Linked DNA regions of Homo sapiens: region 2 is linked to region 1. A link means that fine-mapping ties the variant in region 1 to the expression of a gene that starts in the linked region. Tissue or cell type: lung. Region 1 holds a variant in brackets; the other region holds the start of a gene. All regions are shown on one strand. Distances are from middle to middle.

Region 1 (8,197 bases):
TCCATTCCAGACAGCTTGAAATTTACTGTCTAATTCAAAAGTCCAAAACTATAAAACTCCTGAAAATAATCTTTCCAAATGACCAGTTTACTTTCTCCCTGGACCTGAAAATAGGATGGAAGGGAAGTCTAATTCTGAGAAAGTAGAATCTCCTTCTGATGTTTTGTTTATAAAAATAGTAAACATTTTACTGAACCAGAAAGGGCTAAATTTCATATCTCAATTTAAAAGTATTTGCAGGCCAGGCATAGTGGCTCATACCTGTAGTCCCAATGCTCTGGGAGGCTGAGGCAAGAGGATCACTTGAGTCCAGGAGTTCAAGACCAGCCTAGTCAACATAGTGAGACCCCCGTCTCTACAGAAAAGTAACCAGGGGAGAGGTGGTGCACACCTATGGCACTCAGGGGGCTGGGGCAGGAGGATCACTTTGAGCCCAGGAGTTAGAGGCTGCAGTGAGCAATAATCGTGCCACAGCACTCCAGCCTGGGTGACAGAGTGAGACCTCTGCCTTCTGCCTCTAAAAAAGACAAAACCACCACCACCACCACAACAAAAAATCCAGTATTTGTGATCCCTTTCAAAGCACTGATTCTTCTGCTTCTCAGAGCACTCAGATTGCATCTGATCTTTGCTTGCCAGAATCATCATTTTATGGTTTAGCAAGGAGTTGTCTGCAGGCTTTGCTCCAGTAATGGTTCCAAAGACATTCAGCCACAGCTTGAATAACCTGCACCTGAGCACAAATGTGGCATTCGTAGTCAAGCACCATCGTTCCCCTTCAGTTAGTTAGTCTCGTGACTTTTTTAAGTAGTAATTCCACACCTGTCAAATGCTGTTGGAAGAGACCCTTGAATAGTTCTAGGAGAACCCTCCTCTGGGAAGAAATTTGGGACAGAAGAATTTTTCTTAAGAAGGAAGAAAAGATGGATGAGGAAAGCGCTGACTTCCTCTCATGAGGACCAACAGGCTCCACAATTCCTTTAGCGGCAGTTGTCAGCAAGATGCCCAGAACTGTCTCCAGGCGACAGCAGAGGTCAATTTCAGGTCCACAGAGTCCCACTAACCTCCTATAATTTAGAACCTAATTCAATTGTAACCTGATGGTGAAATTATTCAACAGTTTGCTTCTGGGCATTGAAATAAATAATAAAAAACAGCAAATTTAATACTGCCATTGTTGACATTCTCTACAGTGGCATCAGAAACGCCTCAAAGTCCTATTTACTTCCAAGTGGCCATCTTCATAGTACATTGTCCTTTGTGAAAGCTCTTTGCAAAGAGAATGTACGTCTATATATGTAACATTTGCACCATGCATTACAGTTTTTAAAGAGCTTAGCAAATATGAATCTTCTTTACTACACAGCACTCCTTTAAGATAAAGCATTCAATAACCAATTTTTAATCTCTTCATTGTAGCACAGGTAACTGTGTCCTTATGTTAGGAAATTATGCCCCTTAGAATACCAGTTATTCCAATTTATCAGCCTAAAATGTATATGGAGTACTTACTGTAAGTCTACATGCATAGAATTTTTTAGTGTAATAAAATATTCACTATTTAATGGACAAAACATCCGAAAGAGATCCTACTTTCTCAGAATTAGACTTCCCTTTCCTCCTCCTATTTTAAGTTCCAGGGAGAAAATAAACTAGTTATCTGGAAAGCTTATACTTAGTGGAGTTTTATAGTTTCGACTTTTGAATAGACATTAAATTTCATGCCATCTAGAATGGAAAAACATATATAACTAGACTCATTCCACGGCCTTTAAGACTTATTTGACGTGTCCAAATGTGTCCAACTATGTGTCTATATGTCTGTTTATTGCTGATGGAAACAGCAACAGTAATTCACCTTCAAAATCCCTAAAACGTGGTTGAATAAACAAATGAAGAACGCAGGATGGTGTGTAATGCCGAACTGCTGTAGGTGCAGAGTTAGGGAGGGAAAAACCCGGAAGGTTATCAGAGCCTCCAACATTCAGAAAAGACTTCCTGGAGGAGAGAGGCCTTCAATTAGGCCTCGAAGGACAGTATTTGGAGAGAGAGGAGGAGGTAGGTAAGGTGTCCCTGCCAGTAATTACAGCCTCGTGAAAGAAGCCTGCGGGACAGAAATGAATATGGTATTGAGATGGCAGAGGAGAGAGGTCAAGGGTGCCACAATCTTCAGGCACAACTAAGAAGATCCCTGCAAAGGCAACGGCTCCTCTGGGCCAGCAGAGAAAGTGGAGACCCCAAACAGGGGCTCTCAAGATAGGATGGGGCTGCGGCTGGGAGCGGCACCACCTTTGGGAGGCTGGCAAGGTGGGCAGGCCCACGGGGGAGCCGTGGCTTGCTGGCTGGGGTTTCTCCTGCCAGCAGCACTGGCGTCCTCCAAAATTGCTTCCTGCGGCTTTTCTATTTCTCTTAACTTCATCCACTGTCTTTTCTTATGTCCTGTGACCCACTCACTGCCATGCCACTGAAAATGCTGTTAGAACAAGAAAACAGTAGTCTGTGTCATGTTAATCACATCCTGCTCGAACATGGCCAGAGTTCCCTGCCCATACCCTTTATAAAGCAGTGGACAGTCCCCAGATGGGCTTGCTGGAAGTCTGCACCGGCGCTGCATGCAGGAGAGCCCCGGGCTGCTCTGACCACAGTGACATGCCGGGTTGTCACACCCTGCACGGATGCAGACAATTCCATACAGATGGATCAGCAACTTTGCAGGTCTTCACAACTATGAGCCCAGATCCGCTGAGCCAGGATGCCTCAGCAAAAGGTGACTTCACATAGGGTGGCTTGAAAAGGCAAGCAATCCTGGCTGACTGCATGCCTTCCCCAGGACCAGCACCCACCAGGTGACTCCTTTTACCCTCAACAAACTCCATCTGCCAGTCAGAGCCCCTTATCCATGAGCTTGCATAGTTTCAGAATCACTCTCAACAAGCAGAGATCCATTTGCCTCTCTGAGGTGGGACCATACAGGTGCAAGAGCCTCTCCAGACCACTGGCTGCAGGTTGGCCATGATAAACAGCCTCACCCAAGAATGCTGAGCACGCAGTTACTGTAGGTAAACAAGTCCCGGCTTCACTCTCAGCTGGAGCTGGCACTACGTTGGTATTTATGTAATGCTGCATTGGCAGATATTTCATCTGCAGTATATGTTGAAATGGACAGATAATTATTTAGAACAAATAAAATAAGCTACTTCTGAAGATGACTTGAAGTGGGCACTGACTTGCTGGGACTCTCAGGCCAGCCTCTACCACCCAAGGCAGCTCTCTACAGAACACAAAGGTCCAGCCTAGAAGGGAGTGGCTGAGGTGAGTGCCTCAGGACAAGCCAACACAGTGATGTTCATTCCAGGAATATTTATGATGAAGAGAACCCAGGAGAGCTGAAGATTAGCGTCACACTCTTATAATAGAGAAGAGTTCACCTGCACCAGGTGCCGTGTCCCGCTGGGGCCTGGCTACTCCAGAGGCTCCTCCGCTGCTGCAATGTGCCCGAGCCCCAACCTGCAAGTCCTCCTGGTAGAGTAGCTCTTAGCTCCAGCCTGCGTGTCAGACCAACGCCCACACTTTGTCCACTTCTTACTTTGTTTAGTAAGAAGGGAAGGGAAAAGGAAGAAAAAGAGGAAAGGAGGAACAAAGGAAGAGGAGAAGGAAGAAGGCAGTGCAGTAAGGGAAGGGAAAGGTGGGAAGGTGTGGAAATAAGAAGCAGAGATGAGAAGGGGCAGAGGAAGGTGGCTCTGTGGTCCTGGCCTTGTTCATGGCAAAACACACTTATACTTTGAGGGTGTTCCGCTTCCCTAAGGCACACCGGGGAAGGTCAACAGGTTCCTGTGGACCAGCGAGAAGAGGAGCCCTGTTCAGGAACAGCAGGCAATAGGAAGAGACAAAAGTGATTGATTCCCTGAGGTGCCAGAGCAGGAAGAACAGTCCAGGCATGGCCTGAGAGCAGAGCAAGGTAAAGAGCACGCCTCACCTACCCCCCAGCTCACGCTCCCAGGAGGAGGCCCTGGCCCTGCACAGCCAGCCCCTCCACCCCTCCTCCAGGAGCCTCCACCCCCGAAACCAGCCCTCAGCCCTCTCCCAACTCTGCTCCTCCAGCTGAAATACTGCCCCTCACACCAGGGCCGCATCCCTCTGGGACTACAGCTGGAGTGGCCCTGCCAGTGTAGCAAAGGGCATCTCTGGGGAGGAGATGGTCTCAGCAACTTCAAACACATTTTCTGTTAAGTTTTCTCTTGTATTGTGATGTTACAGAACACGCTCAGCAGGAATTTGTCCCCCAAGAAGTATTCTTTGCTGCAATCCATCTTCAATTCACAATGGGAATAACCTGCTCACTATCCTTTGTATTTTTCTCACCTACTTTCATGTTTTCTACATCTCTG[T/G]TAGGAGATTTAAATTATTTAGGGACAAAGCTGAAGGTGTGTGAATGGATGGATGAAGAGATGGCTGAACTGATTGATGAACAAAAAGTTCACCTGCCAGTAAAAACAGAGGAATGGAGTAGAATGCAGGAGGCCGGAGGCTGCAGGGGCATTTTACAGTTGACCTAGATGGTAATTTGGAGAGAGAGGGAGAGAAATGACACCAGCCTTGAACTTGAGAGATGCCATTTTCTAAATTACCCTGTGTGGCTAAATGACTTTTGCATGCTAGCCCAAAGAAATAACTGCCATGCATTTCACTGTGTGAGAAAACATATTATGAGTTCAAGAAAATAAGAGGAAACATTTTAACATCAAGATGGGAAGGGATAAAGACAGTCCAAGAGGCCGTGGAGGGGGCAGGATACAGCTGTCCACATGAGAAATGGCAGTGACTTCTTTGTGTTAGGGGCAGAGGAGATGGAGAAAATGGAAATATTTGAAAAATATTGAAGACATATAAAGGACAGGTCTTAATAACACAGAATTGTGAGTGAGGAAGTAGGATGAGTAAAAGATAACTTCTGGATTTCTGTTCTGAAAACAAAATTCTGGAAGGGGAAATGGAATGAGGAGCACGTTTGTAGGGAAGGAGGGAAATTGTAAGTTGCACTGTCCTTCATTGTTAAGATTTCACCAAATGAGAGACATTCAAATAGAAATATTCCCTAAATAATAAGACATTTTGTCTTGGGGCTCAATAAGAAATGCCTGGTGGGAAGTAATAGATTTTATTCAGCCATTTAAGAGTGTTCAGGTCTTGGGGGATAACTATCATCATTAAAGGAAGAGTACTCTTGTCATTAATGATGGAGATGGTCCATAGAAAGTGACACAGAGCAGGGACAGAAGATGATCTAGGGTGCAGTTCTGAGTCTCACCCTCTGCTATAGTTTGGGTATGGTTTGGATATAGCTTGTTTGGCGCTGCCAAGTCTCATGTTGAAATTTGATCTGCAATGTTTGAAGTGAGGCCTGGTGGGAGGGTCATGGGGGGTGCAGATCCCTCAGGAATGGCTTGGTGCCATTCTCAGGGGAGTGACTTCTCATGGGAGTGGGTGAGTTCTCACTCTTAGTTCCTGCAGAAACTGGTTGTTGAAAAGAACCTGGCAGCTCCTCCTCTCTTGCTTCCTCTCTGGCCATGTGATCTCTGCACACACCAGCTCCCCTTCGTCTTCCACAATAAATGGAAGCTTCCTGAAGCCCTCACCAGAAGCAGATGCTGGTGCCATGTTTCTTGTATGGCCTGCAGAGCCATGAGCCAAGATAAACCTCTTTTCCTTAAAAATTATCCAGCCTCGGCATTCCTTTATAGCAGCCCCAACAGACTAAAACACCTACATTTAAGGGACAGACGGCTCCCAAAGGAGACCAAGCAGATGTAGCCACAGATGCAGGTCAAAAACCACAGGAGTTTACTTCTATGGGCACCAAAAGAAGAATGTGTTTAAACAAAGAGAGCAGAGTCAAAAATTTCTCTTGGAGGCAAAGTAAAATAAAGGCTGAAAAATGTCCATTGAACTGAGCAACAATGCTGTCTTGGGTAAAGCAGTTTTCATATAGAGGTAAAACAGAAGCCAGATTATAATGGGTAAAAAAATAAATGAGAGTTGAGGAAGAGAGCAAGTACAGGCAACTCTTTTTAAAAAGTTGATTTTGACGAAGGAAAGTGGGGCCAAATGTTGGTAACGTTTTGGGTTAGACAGAGACTTGCTAGTTTTAAGACGAAAAGACACGACTATGTTTAAATGAAGAAAGATATGAGCTCCATGAAACTGAAGGTACAAAAAAGAAAGGCTATAATCTATTGTACAAGGGCCCTGAGGAGGTGGGAAGACATAGCGGAAGAATTTGCCTGAAATGAGAAGGGGCTCACCTCTTCCATCGTAAGCCGGCTGAATGGGAGTTGTGGGCATGACTCGAGCAGTTCAGACGCACCACATTTCCTGCTGCTCTCTAATATCCCCAAACCTGTCATATTTCCCCTTTTGCATGTGACAGTCTAATGATAATCCTGAAGCATATACAGATATATTTCTTCTCCATTGATAAAGCATCATATAATCTTCTGGAGACACAGGCTCCATTAAAATAATTTCTCAATTTCCCCATTGTACGTAACTGCCTTCCATGAAGCTTGCCACTAAAATGTCACTTGACTGAGAGGAGGTGGTGTTGGTGACTAGAAAATGTATGTCTTGAGAGCATGGTGTTCTTTTACTTGTGGAATATGAAATATCTGCTTCCAAATTCCTCAAGGTCCTTCTCCTTGGAGAAGGGGTTTTCCTCTTGCCAGATCATGCCATTCATCCCCTGTGTTAATGTCTATAGACTAGCAAGGAAATGTGCCTAAATTCAACAGCTTGCCAGCACCTAAGAGAAATTATCAGAAATATTGTCCACTTCCTCTTATACATTTCTCTCTGGAAAATTTTTTCAATTTCACAAGGTTTTATCATCTATATTATAGGGATTTGTTTTTAATTCTTCACAATTTCCTTACACTCCTCCAAAGGAATCTTTAACAAGTACAGTTCTCTTTTTCAATTCTGCCCTTGGTGAGTCAATTTATAGTGTGGTTTGATATTTTATTATTGTCAAATATTGCTTATAAGAGAGAGGCTTTGGTTTGGTAACAACTAAACACTAAAAAAGAAAGGAAAAAAGTTGTTTTTTTTGTTTGTTTTTGTTTTTTTAAAGAGAGGCTTTGGGAAAACTGGCAAACTTTCTGCTCTTCCAAAGGTTACTTGTTATATGACTGATCTCCAAGCATTTATTTATCTGAAAAAATCTGTTTGTGATTCTGCCTATGTCAGGGCAGCAATGGCTACAAGATACTTTGAAAGATGGTGGGATATGCCACACAGGGTATGGCATACCCTGTATGAACCTCAGGGTAAATCATGTTAAATAGAACTGTTCTCCTCCCATCTGCCAAAGCACATTTATTTTTCTTCAAACCAAAATGTAGTTTGACCTCCAGGTAGGTTTCCTAAACAACCCTGCCCTTCTCCATTCCTCCTAGTGCCACCTTGAGCTGGCCTTCTTCTGAATACTCTTTCATTTATTGGTAATTGTGACTCACTTATGTATACTTATGCTTTGCTAGCTTCTTTCCCCCTTTGGAAATTAATCTCAGCAGAAACTGAGTTGAATCTCTTCTACGTATTCCTAAGCATAGCTGTCCTTTGAGCACTCCATAAATATTTGTCTACTGACTGGTTGAAGATTTAGTCTCACACAAGTGCAGATGAACTTCATCTCATTTTAGAACTCTGATGGGAAATATGACTGTGTTACACAAGATTCCGGGTCTTTTCCTACCCTCGGGTGAATAAAGAGCCATAATCAATTACAAATGTCTGCTATGGGACTGAAAAGATGGCAAGAAGAGGTGGAGACTGTGCCGCTGTACCAAGAGTTTGCCACTTCGTTTTAGTGGGGCATTGAATGGTTGATTGTATTAGTCCGTTTTCACACTGCTATAAAGAACTACCTGAGACTGGGTAATTTATAAAGAAAAAAGGTTTAATTGACTCATAGTTCTGCAGGCTGTACAGGAGGCATGGCTGGGGAGGCCTCAGGAAACTTACAATCATGGCAAAAGCTGAAGGAGAAGCCAGCTCATCTTACATGGCTTGAGCAGGAGGGAGAGAGCAAAGGGGGAAGTGCTACACACTTTTACAACAACCAGACCTCATGAGAACTCACTATCATGAGAACAGCAAGGGGAAAGTTCCGCCCCCATGATCCAATCACCTTCCACTAGGC
Region 2 (8,174 bases), 41 kb before region 1:
TATCTTTTCCTACAGGGAACTATGTGATCTGTGCAAATAGAGTCCCCACACACAGGACTGGTTTGCATCAGAACATCGGGGAGGCAGGAGCCCCAAGTCAACCATTCTTTGTATAGAAAAAGCTCTCCCAAGTCACTCTTTTCTTTGGCATGTGCATAGTCATCTTTTACCAAATGTTTAGTCAGTATCAAATTCATTTGCTACTGGAAAACCTGTTTTGATGACAGTTGTTGCTAAAAACCTGTACCTGATCAAAATGATTGAGCTTACTAACTCTAAATTAAGGAGTGTCTATTTAAGCCCCCGAAGCTACAGTAGAAAATCTAACGTCATCTCTTAGAGGTGAGCTTGTTAAAATACTGACGTGATGCCTTTGTGAGTCCACCGTCTCCTTTATAAGAATCAGGCCACTGATCCTCAGGCCTGAAGGCTCATCTCTTGGGAAATAGAGGTCACACCAAGGGTTTGGTCCGTGAGTGAGAAGGTCGTCTCCAGCCTAGAAAGGTGAAGACTCTTTGATTCTACAGTTCTAAAGCGTGGCCTGACCGTTTTATTTTAGTGGCCTTTCTCACACTTTGTCTAGTTTCATTTTTGTTACATAATCTGCATAAAAATTCCCTCAGTAGTTACAATTGCAGTTTAGTTCATGTCTGACTTGGTGTGTCGTTCTGTTGTGTTTGAGATCTGAAAAACTGTCGTCATTGCCCATCCAGATAGCATTCAGTAGAGGGGAAAGGATTCCTTTGTACAAAGCAAGCATGGGCTTAGGATATTTCCACATACTATTCATTTGCAGACATTGACTAAGAACAATTAGGAATGTACGCTAGAACGTGAAAAACATCTTTTACATTTGGATCCATCTTGTAAGTGACCAACATACTTTTCTTTGAAAAAATAGAGCCCATACGTTTGTGGCCTAACAAGACATGAGAGGATAATTGATTAAAATGTCAAAGGTGGTTGGGGAATGCTGAGATGGAATGATACTGCAGGAAAGATTTCGCAAAAACAAATTAAAGTGGAAATTACAATTCATGTATAAAGCCCGTTTGTATGATCAAAGCAGGCATCATCTGTACTGCTAAGTTCTACGTATAACATAGTTTTGTTAAAGAAAAGTCAGGCATGAGATGGACATAAGGGATTTGCTGACAAATGCATAACAGCTCTAATGACTAATTTTGGTTTTAGTTAGTGCAATTCTGTAGGTGGACATTTAGCCAGTTTGTTAACAAGGTGTTTTAAGAATGTCTTCCAGGACAATTTAAAAAAAGAGAGAATTATCTTCTCTTACAGAACAATGAAAAACAGAATTATCTTTCAGGGATGGATGTTTATTACATAACCTATTGGAGAATAATGGAAGGGAACTAGATGCCTTATGCCCAGCTTATTCATTATCTGATACCTTTAAAGGCTGAATGGCATTGCCAATTATTCATTGTGGCAGGGGCTGCCATCAATTTTTAGCTTACAGATTGCTAGTTTCTCCCGTGTTCTCTTCCATGAAACAGCAACATACTCCATTTTGTTCTCTATTTAAAAATTTTACATTGCAGCCCTCCAACAAATTAATTCCATTTAGGTTTCTTCGGGAAGAGATACAAATGAGTTTTGTGAAAGTGTACTTAAATGCAGCCATCCAGCCATCAGCATCAACAGGCAGTCAGCTGTGCCCAGTGCCATGCGCCTGATGCCCGTGACTGACAAGGGCCCGCATTCACTGTCCCGGGCTTATGTGAATGCTGACACACTGGTCACCGCAGGGCATACTGCTTGTTGCTGCTTAGTTCATGCTTGCACGGGCAGACCCCCAGGTGGCCTGTCATTTATTTCTATAAGCTAGGTCTGGTAACACCACAAAAGCAGTAACATTCATTTATATGAAGGAGAAGTACATAATCCAAAAATCAGAAAAATTACTTCTGATAGAAGAAACTAGGTTTCAAATGCGGGTCTTAATAATACAACTGGATTCCGATTGCATTACATTGGTTTTCTCTTCCAAATAATTGGCAAATGAGGACAAACAGCTCATCCCCATCCTAACAGGAAGGTCTGAATCTGAAGCCTTACCATCGGTGACTCATTAGGACCCCATTAAGAGCCAGAAAACTTGCCTAAATATAATACAAATCGAATCTTCAATGAGGACTACACATTTGTAAACTAAATTTGAAGTCCCCAAACATTTACAAGTACATTTGTTCTTCATAAGTACAGTCGTAAAGAAAAGCCCAGTCAGTGACAGTCAACCTTGAGCAACGTTGGAATATGAGGTTTGAAAGTGAAAATAGAGGTCGGCGCACAATCTAGTTAGTGCAGAGTTGCATTAGACACAAGTAGTCAGTGACCCCGATGCACGGAGGAAATTCTGAAGGTTCAACATCTGTCTGAAAATAATCGAAAGGCCCTGCCTAGCAGCACAAGGGACTTTCAAGAATGGGCTTTCCTGTAAATTTTGGATTTCTTTTCTTAGAGAAGGTAAAAATGACCTGCTTTCTACTTTTCTTCTGATTGGACTGCAATGGCCAAAAATATTTATAAGAATAAAAGTTAACAAAAACAGTCTAACCCGTCAGTTCAGAACCCTAGTAAAATTTGTTTTGGAGCCTAGAACTAGAATTGGGCAAAAGTGTAGGGCTCTTTCTCTTATACCAAAAAGCCCACTCAAATGTTCTGTGAGCCCGCTCCAAAGATAAAGTCAGAAACAACTTAACAACTTCGTCTTCTTTCACTGATTACTTCCCTCGTGTTCTGTCTATTGCTGATGATGTCCTGACAAACAGCTCCAAGCACACTCACCCAGTGCCCGTGTGCAGCATGCAGACCACTTGTCACCCAATCCATTTCTGAGGGATGACTGTGTTCCTGAAACAACTGAAATCAGAAATCCCTTATTTAGCATTTATTAGAATACTGAATTTAAAATATTACATATTATCATTTGAAAAACAAAACAAACAAACAAAAAACCTGTTACTTAGATTCAAGTTAAAAGAGGGACTATGTATTCACCCTTAGTCCAGGAGAACAGCTTAAAATATGAGCACCTTTTCCTAAGCCATTCCACTTAAATGGACACTAGACCTCAAAATTGCAAACAATAAATACATAAATAAAAGCAATAATTAAAAAACTAACTTCACCATCATCCCTTCCCGCCACCCCCCAAACCTACTTCCTTCCCAGGCTTCAGATGAAATTTCTATGAATGATCCCACCCAGTCTCATTCCTCAGCTCAGTGTCAAGTTCCAGTGTCCTCTGATCTTCCCTTTCTCTGACCCCCACACCTTTATGGCGAGTGGCCCCCCAACGCCACGAGGCCTTTCCCCTTCACTGCTATGGCCGCTTTCTGCACCACCCTTGGGGGAGGTCACAGCCTCTCTGTGACCTAAGCTCTCTCCTCTCTAAAGAGAAGGCATCCACTTAGGTGGTTTATAGGGTTTCTCCTAGCTCAAGGATCTTGAGTGTATCGTTGAGCTAAGATACACTCACGAGCTGAGACCTCCTGACTCAGGCACTGTGGCTGCACTCCACCAGGTGACTTATCTGTGGACCACACTCCACGTGGCCATCTGTGCCTATGCTCTTCCTCCACCCATCCACCAAAATGCCATCTTCTCCACTCCCACTCAGAGCCATGACGTCCCTCTGCCCCCAGGTTGTCCAGGATCCTCTCATCTTCCATTTCCAGCCACCTTTTTTCTCTAAACCCTGTAACACTTCATAGGAGTCCCTCCCAATGAAAGCCACACCCCGCCTGGTGTCTCACACCCCAAAGCAGACTGTAAGCTTCCTGAAGACTGTCCTGCTCCTCAATGTCCCATCCCCTCCCGAACTGACCAGCGGTGCTATCTACGGGGAAGCACCGGGGCAGTTGTTGTTGAATTGATTTCAGTTAATTCAGTTTTTAACTGAATCACACAAAGGATGTCACAAGCTAGCTTTTATAACTAAAGAAAGCACAGTTGTGCAGCTGCCTCCAGAGTCTCTGGGGGTTAGAGGGAATGAAATAGGGAAAGTCCCCAGAAGCCAGCTGACTGCTGCTCAAACCAGGTGCAGGTTGGGAGAAAATCTGTAGTGAATGAAGGAAAATGAAATGCACAGTGGAAAAGAATACCAACATTCTTGCAAAGGAACCTTAAAGTATTATTTTTGCAAAGAATGCAAGGATTATTTCAGTTCCCTTGTTGACTGTTTTGTATGGTCTTCCTACAGATACTTTCAGAAAAAGATCTATTGTTTGTTTTTCTCTGTGCTGACACAGTATCCATTGTTTAGAACTGTAATCATAGCACACATAGTTGAAAATGTGGGCTCGGGGACAAGCTGTATTTTCCCCTCTGGTTCTTTAGACAGTGAATACTGTGTTCTTTATCTCTTATCACAGCTCTTTTGTCAAACATTTAATGATTTTTTCCCCCAGACAAATTTGTAGTTTGTTATCAACCATAAAAATGTCTATTGCCTTATTTTTAAACATTTAAACTTTGGTAAGTGTGTCTCAAGATGAGCATGAATTAAGGTGTTTATTTCATTTTAAATACTTTTTTTTATCATAGCGTACAAAGCTAGAGTTCTCTGACATGGATGGCTTATGTGGATCTCTATTTAGACTTGATGAGAGAACATTTTATTTTTGTACTGTGTGTATTTGCAGGGAAGATGGTTAGGCTGACTGGCTCCCAGGTTGGGTGTGTTGGGAGCATCTGTCAAGGGTTGGACAGGTGCAGACATCTGTGACGTCCTGCAGTAGGCAGCCATCACTCGATTTCCTGCTTAAAAAGATCTGACACACTTCTTCACTCCTTGGATCTCCATTTTTTCCAAATGCCCGATACTTCTTACCATTCTACAACCCTTAAACCGGATCCCAAAGTCTGTGAGAGATAAAAGCCTTTTTTAAACCCAATAAACAGTCACTCTTTGTTGTTCCTGGTTTTAAAATGACAATTTATTGCTTGATACAGACATTTGAAGCCTATAATTCAAATGAATATTTATAAAAATAAATTTCAAGCACACTGGCATGTAACTGCAGGGTAATTTTTAAATATTCATTTTTAAGGTGGTGATAGAGTCTAGAAAAATTTTAATGTGCCACGTTATATTTTATAAATATCCAACTATAGAAATATGCCTTGTGTGCTAATCATTTCCATAAGGCTTCACTTAGATTGAGAGAGTGAAAATGGGTGTCAGTCTTTCAAATATCCAGAGGAAAAACTTTCATTTTGTTTTAAATTTGTTTTTGAGGGCTGAATTTAAACTTAAGACAATGTATGAAGAGTTAAGGTCAGAGTTGGTACTTTCACCACTATTCCATTTGTATTGCTTTAAATTCTCTGATTAAGTGTGGAAAACTATCAACAAGGCGATTGTTCCCAGGGGCTGCCCGGCCAGAAATACCGAGACTGACCATTTTTAAGAACCCAGTGCTATGTGCGGAACAGGGCGGCATGGTGGCCTCCTGAGAACTGGGAGGGAAACACTAAATGAAGACGTGAACACATGGGATTTCTTTCTTTCTTTATTTTTATTAAATAAAAAATATTTTTATTTTGTTATATTGAACTCGACAAATTTTCCTCAGAGATAATTTTTGTTTCAATATTCAAAGTTAGAAATTGTACCAGCCCGTCATAGTTTGAAAGTATTCCTAAAAGTAATTCAAATAAAAATGTATTTTAAATGTAGTACACATTTTAAACATATTGGAGAAAACATAGAATCAGAGACTTTTTCAAATCCATGTTGGACTAGGAAACTGTTTCTTTTTGTTTCTTTTTTTTTTTTTTTTTCCTGAGATGGAGTCTCATTCTGTCACCCAGGCTGGAGTGCAGTGCCGCGATCTCGGCTCAGTGCAACCTCCACCTCCTGGGTTCAAGCGATTCTCCTGCCTCAGCCTCCCGAGTAGCTGGGACTACAGGTGTGGGCCACCAAAGCCGGTTAATTTTTGTATTTTTAGTAGAGACAGGGTTTTGCCATGTTGGCCAGGCTGGTCTCAAACTCCTGACCTCAAGTAAGACTGTTTCTTAATACTAATCAGATTTGACAACAGATGAGGCCATCTGTGATGGAGGTTCTGCGCCCGATTACACATTCCCCTGTAGCTCATAGACTCAGTGCTCCTTTCTACAGAGGAGAGATTCCATAGTCAGTGTTCCTGGGGTTCTGTTTTTACTTTTGAAGTTCCAGAACTTAGTTTCAGTTCTTCCTCTTGATGTCTCTCTTTTGTTCTCTCCCCCTCTCTCCCTCCCTCCCTGTCTTTTCTCCTGTCTCCCTGTCACCCTCCTTCCCTCCTTTCATATCTTTCTTTCTTCATCTTGTTATTTCCATCTGTCTGCCTTTCCCAAGGCAGGAAACCCCGGCGCCTCCAGGCTGGTGGTGTCTGGCTCTGGGCTGCACAAGCCACAGGCCACCTGCCATCAAGCACAGAATGGACTTGACGGGGACCCTGACAGCCAGTCATTCCTGGGACTAGATAGGGTGCAGCCGGGGTGTCCGAGGTGTTTGTAGTCATAGTGGCATACCTACACTGAAGAGGACAGCTTTTTTGTAAGCGGTGGTTGCTTCACTCATCAAAATAGCCTATTTGTGAAGGCATCAATGTGCAAGTATTTTGGAGCAAGTAAAATCAGTCCTGGAGATTAGAACATGCAGGCCTACTGGGCCACAGGAATGGGGCTGCCTGTTGAGACTGGAGTGCAATGCCCCCCAACCCCACGCCTGCTGTTCTTCCCTCTGCTCTTCTCCCTTCCCACCTCCTTCACTCTCCCCTCCTTCCCCACGCCCCTCCCTCCCTTTTGGTCATCAGTGCACTTTGCAGGCATCAGATATTTGGGGCTCTTCAAGTGCCTCCCCTCTACATCGGTGTCCACGGGCTTGCTGAACAGTGAGCCTCTCCTCCCTCCTGGGACTGGTCCTCTTCAACTTGAGCCTTGATCTGGAGTCGATGGTAGAGGGAGTCCACTTCTCTTGACCCCGACTCTCACCATGTCAAAAGGAGGTGATGTTTCCAAAGGTAGCAATTGAAGGAGCCTCTTTATCCCCCCATAACAGAGAAAGCATCGGGGATGCCTTGGCCTCTCAGCCACGCTTTGATGATTGGCATTTGATTGTTCTCACATTTCATTATCGTGAACCACTAATAATGTTGGCTAATTGTTTATTTCATTTATAATTCCTTAAATCTCCATCTAGTCTTGAAGCTGTTGCATCCAAAGAGAGTGCTGCCAAAGAGAAGTTTAACCACAGGTGCCGCCCTGACCACACTTCCAAGACTATCTCCTCATGTGGGTTCTCCTTACATCATACATTTGACCGTGAAACCCATGAAGACAGGCGTCCAATGGAGAGGAGTGTTGGAGGCCTCTTCCCTTTCCACATGGCCCTAGAGCCCAGTGTTTTCAATGTGGTGTGACTCCCTTTTCCAGCGGCGAAATCGTTCCCCCGCTTCCCAGAAGTGTGCTTTAAAGACATTTTGTGATAAGGGAGTGCAGGTAGGAAGGGGTCTAACCTCCCCCAGGGCTCCCTGCGCCTCGGCGGCTGAGGAGGTGGCAGTGGAGGCCGCCCGACCCCCCTCTCAGCCTCCCTGTGCTGCGTTCCCTGCCCTGCCGGGAAATGGAGATTCTGCGCCTAAAGACACACAGTCACGCTGCTTTCAAAGTTTCAGTTCCCACGGCCATTCTAAAATGGCCCCTGGAGAGCTCTGGCTTCCTCCTGCGCCCCTTCCCGCGCCCGCCCCTGGGTGTCTCCGCTGGCTCCCCAGCATCTCCTCCCAGCTCGGGATCTCTCTCACTCATTCCTCCCTCCCTGATTCTCGCCTCCATTCTCCCGCTCTCCAGCAGGGCGCAGCTCCCTCTTGCTCTTTCTGGAGAAGCAGGGATCCCAGAGACCCCCTACGAGCTGGTTCCCTCCCAGACCCCGTCCCTCCAGTCGCTGGCTCAGTTTCCTTCAGTTTCCTCCAGCTCATCTCCTGCCCACCTCAAAAGCAACAGGTCCAAGATCCCAATCAGCATTTCTCGCACAGCGTTTCCGCGAGAACGTTCCCTGATCATCTAGAGTTAGGGAAGTAGAACCGTGCCCTGCACATGATAAGCACATGGAGACTCTAATCAATGAGAGCTACTATGATTGCTGCTCACGGACAGCGCCCAACAGCTCT

The links. PIP is the estimated chance that this variant, and not a neighbour inherited with it, causes the effect.
Region 2: it holds the start of PACRG-AS3, and the variant in region 1 is fine-mapped to the expression of PACRG-AS3 in lung (GTEx, PIP 0.96).

What each region holds. Positions count from the first base shown.
Region 1 is chr6:163,228,839-163,237,035 of GRCh38, forward strand. All of the region lies in intron 4 of PACRG (parkin coregulated), which reads left to right. Among named protein-coding and RNA genes, the nearest start is that of PACRG-AS3, 41 kb to the left of the region's middle. The variant T/G (reference allele first, on the strand shown) is at 4,389.
Region 2 is chr6:163,188,100-163,196,273 of GRCh38, forward strand. It overlaps PACRG-AS3 (PACRG antisense RNA 3), which reads right to left and starts at 3,903. Exons shown (of 4, transcript NR_122120.1): 1 at 3,782-3,903; 2 at 2,809-2,883. All of the region lies in intron 4 of PACRG (parkin coregulated), which reads left to right.